2 separate regions of the Homo sapiens genome follow, and region 2 is linked to region 1. Evidence: fine-mapped QTL for protein levels in blood plasma. A gene starts in region 1. The other region holds a variant in brackets. All regions are shown on one strand. Distances are from middle to middle.

Region 1 (2,924 bases):
CCATGTTTATTACAGCACTATGCACGATAGCCAAGATATAGAAGCAACCTACGTGTCCATCAATGGATGAATGGATAAAGAAAATGTGGTATATGGCCAGGTGCGGTGACTCACGCCTATAAGCCCAGCACTTTGGGAGGCCGAGGTGAGTGGATCGCCTGAGGTCAGGAGTTCAAGACCAGCCTGACCAATATGGTGAAACCCCGTCTCTACTAAAAATACAAAAATTAGCCAGGCATGGTGGCAGGCGCCCATAGTCCCAGCTACTTGGGAGGCTGAGGCAGGAGAATGGCGTGGACCCAGGAGGCAGAGCTTGCAGTGAGCCGAGATAGAGATAGTGCCACTGCAGTCCGGCCTAGGCAAAAGAGCGAGACTCCGTCTCAAAAAAAAAAAAAAAAAAAAAAAAAAAAGAAAGAAAAAAAAAAAGAAAATGTGGTATATAAACACAGTAGAATATTCAGCCATAAAAAAAGAATGAAACTCAGTCATTTGCAACAACATGGATGGAAACAGAGTTTATTAATATTGTGTTAAGTTAAGCTAGGCACAGAAAGACAAATATTGCATGTTCCCACTCATACATGAGAGCTAAAAAAGTTGATCTCATGAAAGTGGAGAATAGAATGATAGTCACTGGAGTCTACAAAGGATAGGGGAAAAGGGGTATGAAGAAAGGCAGGTTAATGGGTACAAAAATACAGTTAGTTAGAACATGAGGAAAAAGGGAAAAAATACAATTAAATAGAAGGAATAAGTCCTAGTGTTTGATAGCATAGTGGGGTGCCTATTGTTATTAATAATTTCTTGTGTATTTCAAAATAACTAGAAGAGAACATTTGAAATGTTCTCAGCACAAAGAAATTTAAATGTTTCAAGAAATGAATATCCCAACTACCCTGATTCGATCATTGTACATTGTATGTATATATCAAAATAACACATATGTAGCCCATAAATATGTATAGTTATTTTGTATCCATTTAAAAAAAAAATGGACTTTTGTAAAACTGCAAGGGCCATTCAATATTATCTTGTCCTAGAAGCACAGATTGTGACAACTGGTCATTTAAAAAGCCAGGTCTCTCATTTCAAATATGGGAGAGCCAGAGCAATTTAGACATATTCCCAGTGTCAACAGTTAGTGCCCGAGACGCAGCTGCAGCTCAGGCCAGAACACTTGGCTCTATACCACCAGGATGCAAAGAACTTCACTGGCCAAAACTGAGTGTGTACACTTGCATCATCCAAAACCCAAAAACAACGTGCAGAAAAGAAACCTTACATAAAGCCTCACCCCAGCAAAACAAAACAAAAAGCAAACACTTCTAAAAACAGAGGGAATGATAAGAATTATCACAATTCTCACCAGAACAAATTCTCCTGGCTTATTGATTATATGAATAACACCCATAGAGGAAATCTCTTTTCCCCAATTTATCTGACCACTTATTTCTGTGTCTCTTCTTCAGTTGCTGTTTCCAATATAAGCCCAAATTACCCCAGCCTAAAACCCCCAGACCAGTCTCTGGATAAACCTCTGTGTAACAAGGCAGGACAGAGACCCTCCACAGAAGGAAGCCTGGTAGGGAGAGGGGAGGGATGCAGAAATGAAGTGAGCTTCTGCTTCACTGAGGCCCAAACCAGTGCATGGAAATCCATCACACAATAGCAAGTCCTCTGGAAACTTCTACATAGAAGGTTTCAGAACACTTACTCAGGTAAAGCCACCAAAACTCAATCATCAGCCAGAGAATGAGAGGTTCTTTGGACATTTTGACGGTTGACCGGACCCAGGAGTCTGTCTATCTATCCAAAGCCCAACCTCTTATATCCCAGTTAATGCTGACAGGGTGGGACTCTTTAGTTTCATTTCTCTTTTTGCCTCATAATCTTCCCTTTCTCCTGTCCTACATGGCTTCCCCCAATGGGCGATGCATGATGAAATGTGCTGAGCCCTTTTCTCCTGGTGACTAGTGTGTGTGTGGAGGGATGGCGTGGACATACTTGTGCTTCTTTGTCCATGTGTATAGTGGGTTTCCTATATGTGCACAAGCATCCATGCATGTGCTGGTGCAAATATGCCTGTATAACCTGTGCATGTGCCACAGTTGTCCCAACTGCTGTACAGCCTGTCACAAAGTGCAATTGACTCTCCATACTGGCAAGTGTTTACATGTAGATTCCTCATGGGGCCAAAGCATAGTTAGACTGAAAGTTGCCTCCATTCCCATTCTAGGTTCTCCCTCACCCTGTCCCCTGGCCTCCTTGCCCTAATAATGGAGAAAGAAAAGTGAGGACAGGCACAGTGGCTCACACCTGTAATCCTAGCACTTAGGGAGGCCGAGATGGGAGGATCGCTTGAGGCCAGGAGTTTGAGACCAGCCTGATCAACATGGCGAAACCCCATCTCAATTTTTTATTTAAAAAAAAGTTTAATAAAAAAATTAAATTTTTTTTTAAGTTTTAGGAAGACACTGAAGCCCAGAACTTCCTGATTCCAAAGCTTATGGTTAATCACTACATTGTCCTTTGACCTGTGACCGTTTGGGTAATGTATCCATATGATGAGGCCTACCTGTGGCTAGCTCCTACTTAGTACCAGGAAGAAAATATAAGAATTCACAAATGTTCTAGATTTTTAAAAATCCTTAATTGATTGTAAACAGCCAGCAAACCTCAAACATTCAACATTGCTTCTACTGAAGGTATCAGTGAAAAATCTAAATATCAGGTGAGGTTCTAGACCCAGAGAAGCCAGACTAACATGAGCAGGGATGAAAATAACGGGATTCAGAGTGAATCTTCCCACTGAATGCCCACAGAACCAAGGGATCCTTTCCCCATTCTATCCCAGGAAACTGGAGGATTTAATCTCTGGATAAACTAAGTGGTCCCAATAAAACATTTTCAGATATTTATAGTTT
Region 2 (2,924 bases), 58 kb after region 1:
ATGAAAGAAAAAAGTGACAAGTTGGAATTTAATAAAATTAAAAACTTCTGCTTTGCAAAAAACACCATCAGTAAAAAGACAAGCTATGGACTGGGAGAAAATATTTGCAAAGGACATATCTGATAAAACATACAAAGAACTCTTAAAACTCAACAGTAAGATAATGAACCAGCTGATTAAAAAATGGCCAAAATATCTTAATAAACATTTTTCAAGATATACAGCTGGCAAATAAGCATAAGAAATATGTTTAACATCTTATGTTATTAAGGAATGCAAATTAAAGCAACAATGACATACCAGTACATTCCAATTAGAATGGCTAACATCCAGCACTAAATGCTGGCAAGGATGTGGGGCAATAGGAACTCTCAATCATTGCTGGTGTGAATACAAAATGGCTCAGCCACCTTGAAAAACAGTGTGGCAGTTTCTTACAGAACTAAACATTCTCTTATCAGACAATGCAATAATTGTGTTCCTTGATATTTACCTAAATCAATTGAAAACTTATGTCTATACAAAAGCCTGTGTGCACATGAATGTTTATGGAAGTTTTATTCATAATTTCCAAAACTTGGAAGCAACTAAAGCAAATTAATAAACAAAAATAAGTTGTGATACATCCAGACAATGGAATATTATTTAGCAATAAGAAGAAATGAGCTGTGTAGCTATCAAAAGAATGGAGGAACCTTAAATGCATATTGTTAATTGGAAGAAATCAATCTGAAGAGGCTACATACTGTATGACCCCCAATTATATGACATTCTGAAAAAGATAGAACTATGGAGACAGTGAAAAGATCAGATCAGTGACTTTCAGGGATTTGGGGAGAGGGAAGGATGACTAGGTGGATCTATAAGATTTTTAGGGCAGCAAAACCATTTTGTATGATACTATAATGGTGGGTACATGTCATTACACATTTATCAAAACCCATAGAATGCACAACACAAAGCATGAACCTTAATGTAAACTATGAACTTCAATTGAGAATGATGTGTCAATGTTGATTCATCATTTGTAACAAATATGCCACACTGGTGGGGAAAGTTAACAGTGGTGGCAAAATCATGTGTGTGTGTATTGTGTGAGGAAGGTGTCTATGTGGGAACTCTGTACTTTCTGTTCAACTTTGCTGTTAGCCTAAAACTTTTCTAAAAATTAAAGTCCATTAAGTAATGTGTGCATCAGTCATCATCAAAGTATTTTTTAGAGCTGACCAGGTTATGCTCACCTGGAGTCCCAGCTACTCTGGAGGCTGAGGCAAGAAGATCACTTGAAGCCAGGATTTCAAGGCTGTAGTGCACTAAGATCATGCCTGTGAATAGCCGCTGCACTCAAGCCCAGGCAATATTGCAAGACCTCATTCCCAAATTTTTTTTAAGTATTTTTAGGCTCAAGCAGGTGCAGGCACTTACAGGCAGAGCAAGCCCCATCTCAGCTGTCCACAGCACAAAATAGGGGTTACCCTAGAGCATTTCCTCGCAGTCCAAAGGGGACTTT[C/A]TTATTTATTTTTACCAGTTTGTAGGGGAAACATTTAGTTCCTAGGAGGCCCAGGGACAAAGTCAGCTGAACAGCTGTGAGCCAGCTTCCTGGGAAGCTTTCCAAAAGCATGGCAACATTCAGCCTTCTTGTTCCCAGGGGTGCCACCAACATCATGCTCTTGTAGTGGGTGCTAGACATAGGACACACCTGTGGTCACCAGCCTCTTGCCATTTTTCTTACTTGGTTTTTCCCCTGCTCTAGCCTATTGTGGACATTTTCCTGTTTCATTTTGTGTCTTTTATGTCCTTCCAGAGCACTTGACACACACAACATAGAAACATGCTGTCATATCCCCTTCCCAAGTCTCTCAAGGTCAGTGGTTCTCAGTCTCAGCTACACACTCAAATCTCCTGGGGAAGGCTGGTCACAGGGCTCATGCCTGGAATCCCAGCACTTTGAAAGGCTGAGATCGGAGGATCTCTTGAGCCTACGAGTTCAAGAACAGCCTGGGCAACATAACGAGACCCAGTCTCTACAAATAAAAAAATTAGATGGGCATGGTGGTGTGCCTGTAGTCCTAGCTACTCGAAGGCAGAGACAGCAGGATTGCTTGAGCCCAGGTGTTGAGGCTGCAGTGAGCCTTGATCACACTGCTGCTCTCCAGCCTGGACAACACAGCAAGAATCTGTCTCAAAAACATAAAAAATCTGGGGAGATTGAAAAAATTATAATATCTGCGACCCCCTCCTGAAATTCTGATTTAATTGATCTAGGCATGGGTAGTTTCTCAACCTTCCCAGATGATTCTAACACGCAGCTAAGGTTGCAAATTACTGATCTCAGAAAGTCACTGAGATTCACACCGGCTCCAGCCAGTAATATAAATGGACTTGTAAAAGAGACACTCTTCCTTGCTCTATCCCATCCCTAGAGTACACAGGAAGGTTCTAAGAAACATTCTTTTATCAATTTATTTTTTATTTTTATTTATTTATTTATTTGTTTGTTTGTTTGTTTGTTTGTTTGAGACAGAGTCTCACTCTCACCCAGGATAGAGTGCAGTGTCACAATCTCGGCTCACTGCAACCTCAGCCTCCTGGGTTCAAGCGATTCTCCTGCCTCAGCCTCCTGAGACTAGCTGGGATTACAGGCATGCACCAAGACACCTGGCAAATTTTTATATTTTCAGTAGAGATGGGGTTTCACCATGTTGGTCATGCTGGTCTTGAACTTCTGACCTCAAGTGATCCACCCCATCTTAGTCTCCCAAAGTGCTGGGATTACATGGGTGAGCCGCTGCACCTGGCCCTATCCATTTATTAACTAATTTTAATAGATATATATCGAACACCTACTAAGTATAAGCTAGGTGCTGAGAAAATACAGACACTTCCCTCGAAGTGTTGAGTAAAAAAGCACCATCAATGTAAAT

Alleles and levels. Positions count from the first base shown, and alleles are read on the strand shown. Strength reflects both the effect of a copy and how common the allele is.
As copies of C replace A in region 2, the plasma level of the protein whose gene starts at base 1,800 in region 1 goes up (weak association).

Evidence for each region. PIP is the posterior inclusion probability: the model's chance that the variant is causal. Protein levels are from antibody-based Olink assays in UK Biobank. Linkage for the fine-mapping came from a reference panel and not from the study's own genotypes, which makes the PIPs less certain.
Region 2: its variant is fine-mapped to the plasma level of the TIMD4 protein (UK Biobank, PIP above 0.99).

What each region holds. Positions count from the first base shown.
Region 1 is chr5:156,961,427-156,964,350 of GRCh38, forward strand. TIMD4 (T cell immunoglobulin and mucin domain containing 4) reads right to left here and starts at 1,800. Exons shown (of 9, transcript NM_138379.3): 1 at 1,715-1,800. The coding sequence starts at 1,772.
Region 2 is chr5:157,019,152-157,022,075 of GRCh38, forward strand. No RefSeq gene overlaps it. Among named protein-coding and RNA genes, the nearest start is that of HAVCR1, 39 kb to the right of the region's middle. The variant C/A (reference allele first, on the strand shown) is at 1,511.